Homo sapiens: one gene and its partner. The protein of the gene in region 2 binds, or shares a complex with, the protein of the main gene of each other region. Each region holds a gene or a part of one and is shown on either strand. Other genes may lie near its edges.

The links. Proteins that work in one complex are often made in the same cells at the same time.
Region 1: RPF2 (region 2) and RRS1 share a complex: the UniProt entries of both Homo sapiens proteins name them as parts of the hexameric 5S RNP precursor complex.

The regions. Positions count from the first base shown.
Region 1 is NC_000008.11:66,424,345-66,431,233, reverse strand, and holds RRS1 (ribosome biogenesis regulatory protein homolog), read right to left. Parts: upstream 2,221-6,889; 5' UTR 2,103-2,220; coding exon 1,005-2,102; 3' UTR 501-1,004; downstream 1-500. UniProt on the Homo sapiens protein: Involved in ribosomal large subunit assembly. May regulate the localization of the 5S RNP/5S ribonucleoprotein particle to the nucleolus.
Region 2 is NC_000006.12:110,984,999-110,992,096, forward strand, and holds part of RPF2 (ribosome production factor 2 homolog), read left to right. Parts: intron 1-7; coding exon 8-140; intron 141-4,029; coding exon 4,030-4,067; intron 4,068-6,748; coding exon 6,749-6,788; intron 6,789-7,098. UniProt on the Homo sapiens protein: Involved in ribosomal large subunit assembly. May regulate the localization of the 5S RNP/5S ribonucleoprotein particle to the nucleolus.

The sequences.
Region 1 (6,889 bases), on a different chromosome or scaffold from region 2:
TTTTTAAAAAACAGACATCAGTTTTACTACTTTGAATATTATATTTGATACCAAAAGAAGTATAAGTTTAGAAGTGGTATCACTGAAACCATTATAATTGAACTGCTTTTTTTTTTTGAGATGGCCCCTTCCTCTGTTGCCCAGGCTGGAGTGGAGTGCAGTGGCGTGATCTGGGCTCACTGCAACCTCCGCCTCCCAGGTTCAAACGATACTCCTGCCTCAGCCTCCCAAGTAGCTGGGACTACAGGTACCAGCCACCGTGTCTGGCTAATTTTTTTATTTTTAGTAGAGATGGGGTTTCACTGTGTTGGCCAGGCTGGTCGCGAACTCCTGACCTCAGGTGATCCGCCCGCCCCGGCCTCCCAAAGTACTGGGACTCTACAGGAGTGAGCCACTGCGCACGGCCTGCTTTGTGTTTTTCAGAAAGTAAACAAAAATAATCTGTACCAGGTATCCAGGTAACCGGCTTCAAGTACAATTTCTACCCAGTAGTCAGAAAGTTAAAAGTCACACTAGATAAGACATCTTTATTACTTAATCTTTAAAACAGTCACTTGCCTATTCAATTCTGAAACTGTTTGTTTTCTTTCCCTCCCCCGCACTCCCGCTCTGATACACAAACTTGTTGTAAAAATAATGCAGAAACATATACGTCAATCTAAGTCTCTGAAATATGGCCAACTCTACCTCGCCGTATATCCAACATTAAAAAGAAAAAAAAAGGCTGTTTAAGAATAGAACTCATTCCCGGTTTCCACCAAATTATTTCCCTAATTCTTAAATCCTCAAATAAGTTCTTAATCTCCAAAGTCTCGGTTGTGGGAAAAACATTAATTTGTGCAGTCCAACACTTACATACTTTCTTGACGGAAGGGCAATCCTGTCCCTTTAAACTCAATGAAGGCAGCGGCCAGGTCCTTCTGAGTCCCCGTATAATTGCCTAGAACTTAACATTTAGTATTCATAGTCCTTGGTTTACAGACGGGTCCGACAGTTAGAAACTATTACTTCCTCCTCTTTCCTCCTGGGCGCTGTCCTCCTTTTCTCTTGCCACCCAAGCCAGGCGGCCCAGAATTCATCTTGCCTCCCAAGCCCCCTTTCCTCTTCCCTCCCTGGCTGGGCGGGCCCCCTTTCCTCTTGCCCCCAGGCCCCTGCCGGCCTCCCTTTCTCTTGCCCTTCTGGCTCATTTTCCTCCTCTTGGCGGCCTCCTCCTGGTCCTCCTCCCTCATCTGCTTATTGGTGGCCCTAGTCACATCCAGCTGAGGCTTCTTGCTGTTCATGACACGAAGCAGCTCCAACTGGTTCTTTTTCTCGGCTGCAAAGTCCCCGAAAAGGGGTTGAAACTTCCTTTTCTTGCCGGAGCCCCGGGGCACCTTCTCCTTGGGGAGGCGCTCCTGAAAGCGCCCCACAGAGGCGGTGGAGACCTTGGCCACTTGCATGGCGCGGCCCAGCTCCTCCTTACTCTGGTGTCCGGTAGGGTGCAAGCCGGCCGCGCTGGGCAGCTGCATCTTGTGCGCGCGGGCCAGGTTACGCAGCCGGTTCAGCTCGTTCTTGGCCACCCTTTCCTTCTTGGCCTGAATCCGCTTGGCGAACTGGTCCTCCAAGGGGTCGGCATTGCCGGGCACCTCAATCAGCCATTCTTTGGTGTCGTCCCGGGCGCGCTGGTAGCCCCAGCGCCGCCGCCACTGGCCACTCACCTCGTCCCACACCAGGTTGGTCTTCTTCTTGGGACGGATGCCCTTGAGGCGCGCGAACTGCTGCCAGCGTGTAAGTGGCCGCGGTCGGGGCAGAGGCTTCTCTCGCGGCAGGCGTGTGGTGGGCTCCGGCAGCCGCGCCACTATCGCCTCTTCCACGCGCTCCGTGGGCAGCTGCCACAGCTGGTTGATGAGCAGTTGCGTGTTGTCCCGCGCCAGGGCCTGTAGCTCGGCCTCCGGCGTGGGTCCGGCGCACCGCAGCCCGGTCGGGGGGTTCCGGTCCGACGCCAGCAGGTTGCCCAGGTCAAACTGCAGCTCCAGCTCCTTGTGCACCGTGATGCGTTGCAACTTCTCTGCCTCGTCCTGCTCTGCCTTTGCGAGCAGCTCCTCCACGCTCTGGCCCTCCATGGCTCCGGCTCGGCTCACTCGCTTTGGGGCTGCAGCTGAAGTTACTTTTCCTACAGTGGCGGCCCAAACTCCGGCAGCATAACCACGTGCAGATGCCGGGATGCCCAATCCGGAAAAGAAAGGTTCGCTTCCGGAGCGTCCGGAAGCGGCTCGCAATCCGGGCGACCAGAGGAAAGGCCGGCAGAGGGCGGTATGGAGAGATGATGGGATTAGAAGCGGGACCTTTAGGCTGGCGCCAGATAGAGGCGGAGCTGGCCCGAGCAGGCCGCACTGCTAGTTCCAGAGCAGGATTGGGACTACGATTCCCAGGATGCAGGGGGCGGGAGGCGGTCTAGAGGGCGGTCCAGGGACAGCTCGGGGGGCCGCCTAGGGGGTGGTCCAGGGGGCGGTCCGGGGACAGTCTCGCAGGCGGTCTAGAGAGGGCGGTCCCGGGGGGCGATCTAGGGGGCGGTCTTGGGGGGGGCAGTTCAGGGAGTGGTCTTAGGATGGTGGTCCGGGGACAGTCTTGGGGCTCAATCCGGAGGGGCGGGCCGGAGGGTTTGTCCAGGGGCGCGGTCCGGGACCGGGGCGGGTACAAATTCCTGGGACTGCCTGTGGTGTGGGGTTCCAATCAAGTGCGTGTTACAATTTCAGTGTAAATCCGTTGTGAAGATGTTTAGACAATCACCCTTCTTAGGGCCAAATAGTTTCACTGGAGTCATAGTCGGCTTTCAGGGTTCCTAGTTGTGGCCCGAGAAAGATAACATCCCAAAGATACACATAGAGCTAATTGTAGAAGATTCGTTTTGTTTTGGGAGTCAGTGGCTCTGGCAATGAAGCCACCCCGAGTGGGCGCGGGTGTGCACCGACCCTAGTGAGCTAGCTGACTCGGAGATCCGGGATTCTGCAGTTACAGAACCTAGTCTAGTTCAATTAATCTAGTACAGTGCTGAAACTAAGCCACGCTCTGCAGTTACACTGCCTGGGTTCCAATCCTGACTGTGCCACTGTTGGTCCTTCAGCAATTTTACTTGTTGAGGCCGTTTTAAGGCCTGCGAGATAATGATAATAATACTTCCTAGGGTGGTTATAAGATAAATGAGTTAATATCGTCCAAGGGAGGGTTAGACGAGGGCCTGGAGCGTATGAGTACTCAGTACAAATTAGCCAAATACCGATTATTATTTCATTTTCATAGGCTCTGGGAGGTAAGTGCTACATGGTGTTAAGTATGAGTCAAACGGCCTACAATCAGGTATCAGGTCACCATTACTTGGAGAGGATGTTTGATCTAAGCCTTATTTATAAATTGACAAACATAAAACATTAGTTACTGCTACATGGTAAGAACTCAGTATGTGTTAGCTATTAGTATTAACTATGTTATTAATTATTGTATTAACTATATTATTTTCACAGATGAAACAAGGAGGGCTCAGAGAGGTGAAATGACTTATCTAAAGTTATGCAGTTAGGGAATATAAGAACAAGAGATATCTTAACTCTGGTTTTAAGTCTGTAGATCTATTCTCTGCAATGTCGTCCAAGCTCTTGATACTCATTAAAGTGTGGTCTGCATACCAGCAGCATAATATCCCCTGGGAGCTTGTTGGAAATGCAGAACGTCAGGCCTCACTCTAGATGTAATTTATCAGAACCTTTATTTTAATAAGATCTGTAGGTGACTAGGATGTACATTTGAGTATCAGAGGCACTGTTGATTGCGTGGTTTACAGGGTTTATCTTCCTTTCACTGGGGGCCAGGTTTATCCTAGAGGGGGTTATGCTGGAGAATTAACCAATGAAATTAACTTAATAGCAATTAGCAAATAGACTCAGTTTAGTTTCAGCATTGTGCTAGCCTTTCTCATCCAGAAGCATTTTAGAATTTGCTGTTTTTTTTTTCCCCTTGAACCTACTTTAACATTCAGCATCAAGGCTTTAACATCAGTCATCCCATGTAGCCAAGGCTAGGTCAAAGACCATATTAGCTAACTGCCTTGAGCCTTAAACCTTTGGGATTTGCCATAGGAGAGAGTTGAGTGTATTGATATGACTGCTATGGGCTTGGCTTGGTTTCTCATTCATTCATTCACTTGACAAACATTTAATTGAATGGCTACCATGTGGCAGACACTAGGTGCAAAGATAACTGAGACCTTATGGAATACTGGGGAAGAAAGGTAAAAAGAAATTGACTATATAATGTAACGTCATTGGACCTTTAATAGGAAGTACCAGTTATGTAGGAGTTAGCTTCTCTGTCAATCTTCTGAATTGGGAAAAAAAGAGCATAGGTTGACAAGTGTTAAATGGTATGATCTGGATCATACAGGTCAGCTCTTAATTGAACTCTGTTTTATGTTCAGTGTTTTTTTTTTTTTTTTTTTTTTAGACAGGGTCTCACTTTGTCACCCAGGCCGGAGTGCAGTGGCACGATCTTGGCTCACTGCAGCCTCAACCTCCTGGGTTCAAGTGGACCTCCTGCCTCAGCCCCCTAAGTAGCTGGGACTACAGGCACGTGCCACTACACCTGGCTCTTTGTGTGCATGTGTGTGTGTGTATTTTTTGTAGAGCCAGGTTTTGCCATGTAACCCAGGCTGGTCTCAAACTCCTGAGCTCAAGTGATCCACCTACCTTGGCCTTTCAAAGTGGTAGGATTACAGGCGTGAACGACCTTGCCCAGCCATATTCAGTGGTTTTTTATAGTCTAAACTGATTTTAATTTCCTTGAAGACTAGAGACTGATTTTTACTTCCACATAGTGCTGGGCACATATTAGGCATTCAACAAAATGATTGTTTAAAAGCATAAACACTATAGGGTTATCTAATTAAAGGTTATTACTATTGATTGTGTTAGATTCAAGGTGAGCAAAAACAGTAAGATTGGGATTTCGGGCTTAAAAAAAATCTTACTGAGGTAAGTGGGTAAGTTGTGGTCTCCAGGTTGCATTTGTATCATTCTTATTTTAGGCAAGACTATACAGTGCCCAGAGAAAGCAGGCTCTGGCCAGGCGTGGTGGCTCACACCTGTAATCTCAGAACACTGGGAGGCCAAGGCGGGAAGATCCCTTGAGACCAGGAGTTTGAGACCAGCGTGAATAAGATGGTGAGACCCCGTCTCTACAAAAAGTAAAAAAATTAGCTGGCTGTAGTGGCATGCGTTTGTAGTCCCAGCTACTCAGGAGGCTGAGGAAGGCTCCCTTGAGCCCAGGAGTTTGAAGTTACACTGAGCTGTGATGGTGCCACTGCACTGCAGCCTGGGCAACAGAGCATCTCCTGATTCTGAAATAAATAAATAAAAACCTCCTTCATTAAAAAAAGAAAAAGGAGGCCTACCAGAGATGTATAAATATATATGAATATATATTAATAGTACAGCAAATGGTGGTATATATTGTCTTTTTCTTTTGTTGGTTTCCCTTCTTCCTTATATCCCGTAAATACAGAGAGATCCTAAGTTTGGTCATCAGATCCCACTTTTTCTCTCTATGTGCTCCCTGTGACATGTCATCCACTTGCATGGTGCCAGCTACCACTTTTGTGCAGCTGGTTCTTACAGGTACATTTTTCTTTCTTTTTCGGAGCTCTAGGATTTAATCTTCAACTACCTACTGGGCTTTTCCGCCATATTCTAAACTCAATATGGCTAAAACGACATAACATATCATCATCTCCCAGATTTGCTTCTCCTTCATCCATCCATCCATCCATCCATCCATCCATCCATCCATCCATCCGTCCATCCCTCCCCTCTTTTTCTCCCAGGAAATGTTTATAGAAGGCCTTTGATGCCTGAGGCACTATGCCGACATTGAGTTGATGTTATCATCATTCTAGTCTAGAGCTTGGGCTTGAAACTATGACATCATCCTTGACTTTTCTCTTCCTATCTCCAAATCCAATCAATGTAAAAGTCTTGTTTGGCTTATCTCTATATTGTACCTTTTCCATTCCCACTGCCATGACCTTGCCACTATTTTCCTAGACTGGATCTCTTTCATCTGCTTCTCCATATTCTTTCTCCACTCTGTCCCTGGCTTCCAACTGGGTTTGGCCAGCAGGGGCAGTGACAGAAGATCAGAAGGCGTGAAGAGAGTGAGGGCACGCATGCAGATTGCCATCAAAAGTCCATCAAAAGGCCACAGCTCCCATCAGGTAGCCCTGTCCACGCAGCCATCTTCCTCCTGCTCCTCTAGCTGCTCCCTTGGTTGCTGCAGGCCTAGGAGTGATTATAGTTCTCTGCTAATGCAGCACTACCGTTATTGTCAGTTTCCTTAAACTGCCCACATCTCTGCAAGTATTCTTTGTTTATCTTTCTTAAATTACCCAGCTTGACCACTGCCTGTTTGCTGCCCTGACTGATATCCTGGGAACCATCCTAGGAGCATCCCAACATTTCCTGCTTCCATACTCTTTTCAGGGCAGTCCTGAAGCTTTACCTTTTGTGCATCTGGCCAAATCACTCTTCTCAAAGACCCTCCTTTCTCCTTAATGAAATAATGACTATTCTTGGTCTTGGATGTTTATGATCTGGCCCCAAGCAACTTTTTTTGTAGTCACATGTCATGATAGTCCTCCTTATGCTTGTTTTCCAAGTATTTCTTTCCCACTCTTATTTTCTATCTTAGCTCTCTCTAGAGCCTTAAGAACATTCCTCAAGAAAGGGAAAAGTGAGGTGAGGTGCAGGGCAGAAAAAGCAGCAATTATTGTAAAGTGAACCTGGAAGGGAGAGTTTTTCCCAAAGCAGGAATAAGAAGGTTAAAGCCATGAAAGCAATACCTTTCATGTTCCCTCAAAACATAA
Region 2 (7,098 bases):
TGAACAGAAAGCCCAAAACGAAAAGAGCCAAGAGATTCCTTGAGAAGAGAGAACCGAAACTCAATGAAAATATTAAAAATGCCATGCTGATTAAAGGGGGAAATGCAAATGCAACAGTGACAAAAGTACTTAAAGATGTGGTAAGTATATATACTTAATCTTTAAAAGGTATTGAAGTCATTTTAGAATTTTCAGCATGCTAGGATGGGCTGTCGGAGAAATACGTAGATAAGCTTGCCTTACCATAAGAACTACTAGTCTTAGAGAAGAGCTAAAGTTGGGGGTTTATTTACCTTGCGTGGCACCTTTTCTTAAAGCAACTAGTTCTCTTAGTAAATTTTATTATTGTTTTTTAGGAGCACAGGTGGGTCTGGTAGAGTGAAGGTCTCCCTTAGTAAATTTAAACTGTTTTCAATTACTAGAATTTGGCTTACTTACATTTTAGGAAAAAATCTAATTTGTAAAGAGAAGTAACTGCATATTGCTGTATATTTAGTCATTCAACAACACCGGTTACTGTGCCTCTGCTGGGAATTAATAGGTGAGACACAGTTCTTTCAGTGAGCTTAGAGAGATAGACATGTAAAAAGTTCTTACACTGTGCTGTGCTGGAGGCATGGACAGGGTAGGGTGGGAAACAGTTAAAATCACATAGGGGAGGCCAGGCACGGTGGTTCACGCCTGTAATCCCAGCACTTTGGGAGGCCGAGGCAGGAGGATCACGAAGTCAGAAGTTCGAGACCAGCCTGGCCAACATGGTGAAACCCCGTCTCTACTAAAAGTACAAAAATTAGCCGGGTGTGGTGGCGGGCGCCTGTAGTCCCAGTTGCTCGGGAGGCTGAGGCAGGAGAATCGCCTGAACCTGGGAGGTGGAGGTCACAGTCAGTCGAGATTGTGCCACTGCTCCAGCCTGAGTGACAGAGAGAGACTCCATTTCAAAAAAAAAAAAAAAAAATCACATAGGGGGACCCCCACACAGGGTAGGTTCCCCCAGAGATAACACTGCAGCTTCATTTTGAAGGAGAAGTTGGTGCAAGAAGTGGGAGAGAAAGAGAAGATCCTCTGAGGCTGAGAAAGAAGTTTGTGCAAAAGGGAGTATGAAGGAGCATTGATGCATTTGGAGAACTGTAAATAATTGGGCATGGCCAAAGGAGAGTGGGCTAGATGAGGCTAGAAGAGGAGGCATGGGTCACATAGTAACATGAAATTTGAATTCTAATCTGAAAGCTCCGTGTAATCATTGAAAGATATTAAGCAAGAGATACCATCAGTCCTTTTAATTGGCTTGATTAGAGAGGGTTGAGAGCAAATGTAGGAAACTAAGCCATTGCTGCCAGCTAGGTGAAGAGCATCTGGAGTCCAGTGGTGGCAATGAAAATGAGAAATGACCAGAAAGAATAGATGTTGAGGAAAGAAGAGTTGGGAACTAGTGAAAAGTATGACTTCCCAGGTGTTTGGCTTGAGTGCCTGATGGGCAATAATGCCAATTAGAAAATGTATCAAGCGGAGCAGGTTTGGAGGGAAAGGTGAAAGGTTCGGTTTGGGACATGTAATTTAAGTAATGAAAATAAAAGCTTTGTTTTTTCTACCTCTGTAGCCTAGTGTACAGCCCAGTGTCTGGACATAGTAGGTACTCAATATATATGTAATCTATGAAAGAAAGGCATAGTATGGGCCAGGCACAGTGGCTCACACCTGTAATCCCAGCACTTTGGGAGGCCGAGGTGGGCGGATCACGGGGTCAGGAGTTCGAGACCAGCCTGGCTAACACGGTGAAATCCTGTCTCTACTAAAAATGCAAAAATTAGCCAGCCATGGTGGTGGGCGCCTGTAATCCCAGCTACTAGGGAGGCTGAGGCCGGAAAATCTGCTTGGACCTGGGAGATGGAGGTTGGAGTGAGCTGAGACCACGCCATTGCACTTACTCCAGCCTGGGTAACAGAGCAAGACTCCAACTAAAAAAAAAAAAAAGACATAGTATGTGGAGATATCTAGTAGGTTATTTGACTAATTAGGCCTTGAGTACAGCCAATAGATCTTTGAATTAAATCAATTAAGTAATCGAATACATTTTTGTTGTTGTTATTGAGGTGGAGTCTCACGCTGTTGCCCAGGCTGAAGTGCAGTGGTGCCATCTTGGCTTACTGCAACCTCTGACTCCCGGGTTCAGGCGATTCTCCTGCCTCTAGCCTCCCAAGTAGCTGGGAGCCACCACACCCAGCTAATTTCTGTGTTCTTTTAGTAGAGACAGGGTTTCACCATGTTGGCCAGGCTGGTCACAAACTCCTGACCTGACATGATCTGTCCGCCTCGGCCTCCCAAAGTGCTGAGATTACAGGAGTGAGCCACCATGCCTGGCTTTGAATATATTTTAAACTTGACCAAACTCTATGCCTGATAAGCATAGTCAATTCAGATGTCTGAATGCCTTATATAGGCCCATCCCTTTTTTGAAATGTTTGTCTGAATTTCATTGTGCTAACGGGAAACTGCCCCTCTCCTTCTAGTATCCATCAGCACAATGACCCTGCATATTTAAGTAAGCTTTAAAAGCAGCACAATATTACAGATTACTACAATAATTAAAATTCATCATGATGACTCTGAGTCATCAAGAAGAGGTGGCAATGTTTATTACACGGAAACAGGGAAATAGTTGGCCAAGAATCATCAAAAGTTTTAGTACTTAAAAAGGTAGATTTTACTGTTGCATTTTCTTTGTTCACCAACTCTGATAGTTGATGAATGATTATTATACCTTATTTTTCATTGTTTCCCTCATTTACCCATTTCTCTAATGCAAGGTAGTACCTGATGACATCTTTGTTATTCTCTATGGTAGAGCAGTACTGGCCATACAAGTAATAAATGATTATAGGCCAGGTGTGGTGGCTCACACCTGTAATCCCAGCACTTTGGGAGGCTGAGGTGGGAGGATCACTTAAGCCTAGGATGACAGCCTGGACAACAAAGTGAGACCCCATCTCTATAAATTAAATTTAAAAAAATAATAAAATACAGCCTGGACAACATGGTGAAACCCCATCTCCACTCAAAATACAAAAATTAGCTGGGCGTGGTGCATGTGTCTGTACTTGGGAGGCTGAGATGGGAGGATCACCTGAGCCCTGGAGTTTCAGGCTGCAGTAAGCTTTAATCACGCCATTGCACTCCAGCCTGGGCAACAGAGTGAGACCCTGTCTCAAAAATAAATAAATAAAATAAAATGAATGATTATTTGTGGATAGGTAGAACTAGGAAAAAAATGAAGAACATTGAATAATAGGCATTTTTTAAAGAGCTGTGTTTAACCTCTGGCTAGTATTCTAATTGTCATCATTATTACTGTTTCTAAGTTTTCTGATCTCCACGCAACATTATTTCAATCTGTCAGCCTTTCGTGATAGAATTTATTTTTTCTGTTTTTGTCTACTACTTTTTTTTTTTTTTTTTCTGAGACAGGGTCTCACTCTATCACCAGAGCTGGAGTGCAGTGGTGCAATCACGGTTCACCACAGCCTCGAATTCCTGAGCTCGGGTGATCCTCCCGCCTTAGCCTCCCAAGTAGCTGGGACTGCAGGCATGCACCACTATGCCTGGCTAATTTTTGCAGTTTTTTGTAGAGACAGGGTTTTGCCATGTTGCCCAGGCTGGTCTCGAACTCCTGGGCTTGAGTGATCTGCCTTGTCCTCCCAAAGTGTTGGGATTACAGGCGTGAGCCACTGCACCTGGAATTGTTTCCCTAGAGAGAGACTGGACTAAGTCGAGTTTAAAGAAATGAAGGAAATTGTTTAAGTTGGATAGACTATTGACAGGGCATAGAAACTTTTAAATAGGAAAGTCTAGTCCAAGAATATTAAGCTTACATTTCAAGTTACTGTAAGTGATGAAAAGGGAGCCAGGCAGAAGCCCTCAGAATAAGATTGAGGCCCCAGAGCAATCTTGGAGAGTGACTGTTATGATGCTTTATTTTTATTTCTGCTTTTCAGAATGTGTTTTGTTTTGAAAGCTATAAATTTTGTTTTACAGTATGCACTGAAAAAACCATACGGTGTACTATATAAAAAGTAAGTCATGATTTCTTTTACTGTATTTTAAATGATTTTGTTTCATTATAAAAGTAACCACTTTATGGAAGATTTGGAAAACAAAAACTTTTTAAAAAGATATTAAAATTCCTTACAGTTATTAATATTTTAATTTCTTTCTTTTGGTCTGTTTTTTTCATTTGTATTGAATGTCCTTGCATAGTTGTAACCATAGCATATATATTTTATTTTGAAATACAGATTTACAGAAAAGTGCAAAAATAATGCAGAATTCCCATATACCCTTCACCTGGCTTCCCCTAATGTTACATCTTGCATAACCGTAATGCAATGATCAAAACTAATAAATTAACACCGATTCACTCATGTTAATCAAATGACAGACATATTTGATTAGCACCAGTTTTTCTTTTTTCCTTCTTTTGAGACGGAGTCCTGTTGTCGCCCGGCTGGAGTGCAGTGGCATGATCTCTGCTCACTACAACCTCTAACTCTGGGTTCAAGCAATTCTTCTGCCTTGGCCTCCCATGTAGCTAGGATTATAGGCACGTGCCACCACGCCTGGCTAATTTTTGTGTGGTTTTTTTTTTTTTTTTTGAGACGGAGTCTAGCTTTGTTGCCAGGCTGGAGTGCAGTGGCATGATCTCGCCTCGCTGCAACCTCTGACTCCCTGGTTCAAGTGATTCTCCTGCCTCAGCCTCCTGAGTTGGGATTACAGGCATGCACCTCCATGCCCAGCTCATTTTTGTATTTTTAATAGAGACAGGGTTTCACCATGTTGGCCAGGCTGGTCTTAAACTTCTGACTTTAGGTGATCTGCGCGCCTTGGCCTCCCGAAGTGATGGGATTACAGGCGTGAGCCACCCCGCCCGGCCCAGTTTCTTTTTTCTTTCTTTTCTTTTTTTTTTAAGACGGAGTTTCACTCTTGTTGCCCAGGCTGGAGTGCAGTGGCATGATCTAAGGTCACTGCAACACCTGCCTCCTGGGTTCAAGCAATTCTCTTGCCTCAACCTCCCGAGTAACTGGGATTACGGGCATGCGCCACCACGCCCGGCTAATTTTGTATTTTTAGTAGAGACGGGATTTCTCCATGTTGGTCAGGCTGGTCTCGAACTCCCGACCTCAGGTGACCTGCCCACCTCGGCCTCCCAAAGTGCTGGGATTACAGGCGTGAGCCACCGTGCCCGGCCCTAGTTTTCCTTTTAATACTCTTTTTCTCTTCAGGATCCCATGTTGCATTTAGTTTTCATGCCTCCTTAGTCTTCTCCAATTTGTGACAGTTCCTTAGTCTTTCATTGTCTTTGATGACCTTGACATTTTTGACAAGTACTTGTCAGTTATTTTGTAAATTATCCCTCAATTTGGGTTTAAATTTTCTCATGAATTGATTGAGGTTATGCATGTTTGTCAAGAACACTACAAAAATGTTGTGCTTTCCTCATATATTCTTCTGGATTATAATCCAGTGTTCTTAATTTTGTTGCTTAAATTGTTCTGTTTGGCAATTGGGAACCCCCCCCCCCCCCACCTTTTCTTTTGTTTGTTTTTTTAGTATGAGACGGAGTCTCACTCTTTCACCCAGCCTGGAGTGCAGTGGTGCGACCTCAGCTCACCACAACCTCTGGCTCCTGGGTTCAAGCGATTCTCCTGCCTCAGCCTCCTGAGTAGCTGGGATTACAGGTGCCCAGCTAATTTTTGTATTTTTAGTAGAGACAGGGTTTCACCATGTTGGCCAGGCTGGTCTCAGACTCCTGACCTCAGGTGATCCACCAGCTTCAGCCTCTCAAAGTGCTGGGATTACAGGCGTGAGCCACTGCTCCCAGCTGGGAACTCTTTTACGTTGGTTCCTATGACCTTTCAACATGCCTCCTGTTTTTGAGCACTTCCTTACTTTCTAACATCACAAAATTATCTGGGTTCATCTTGTCTTTTTCCTTACCACAGCCCTGGAATAAGCTACAGTCATCCCTCAGTATCTGTGGGCGATGGGTTCCAGAAACCTCCCCTTATTAAAATCTGGGTATGCTCGTCTCTTACATAAAATGGCCTAGTATTTGCATATAACCCACACACTTCCTCCTGTATCCTTTTTTTAAAAAATGCTTCCCATAAAAGTAAGTTGCATATACTTTAAATCATCTCTCGATTACTTATAATATCTAATATAATGTAAATGCTATGTAAATAGTTATAATGCTGTATTTTCTGGTTTATCCTGCTTTTTATTGTTCCTTTTTCTTTTTATTTCTTAACTTTTTTTTTAGAGACGGGGTCTCACTGTTACCCAGGCTGGAGTGCAGTGGCACGATCATATTTCACTGTTGTAAGCCACTGTGCTCGGCGCCCCCTGCTTTTTTTTTTTTTTTTAACACACTTTCTTTGTCTATTGAATACTGTCAATCCGTGGTTGGTCAAATCAATCCATGGATGCAGAAGGATGCAGAATCCATATGTACAGAGGACTACTTATTTTCCACGAGCCTATAAACTCCATGAAAGCAAGCATCTTGTTTAATGTAGTAGTATAGTATCACTAGCTCCTAGAATGGTAGCCTGGCATATAACAGGCACTGAATAAATATTTGAATGAATGAATATCCTTTCAATTGTTTTATCATCTGAATATAAAATTACCTTAATATATTAATTGTATATACTTATTTAGATTATTAAAATTGTCACTTTTTTGATATTCTTAGGAAAAATATTACAAGACCTTTTGAGGATCAGACATCACTGGTAAGTATAATAATCTTTATGATTTAAGAAAGCATATAAGTAGTAATTATTCAGACTAATTCATTTGTACTCCAAATTTGTGATTTTTTTAAACATTAGAAGTCATCCTGTGTGAGGGAATTTTGTGTAAAATGGAGAGGAAATACTTTAAAAAATATCTATAGAGCTTTCATTTCACTATGGCTGGGAAATGTGTTTTTCATTGCCTGCAAATATATTGATAAAATTTTTAAAACTTGGCCGGGCGCGGTGGCTCACGCCTGTAATCCTAGCACTTTGGGAGGCCAAGGCAGGTGGATCACCTGAGATT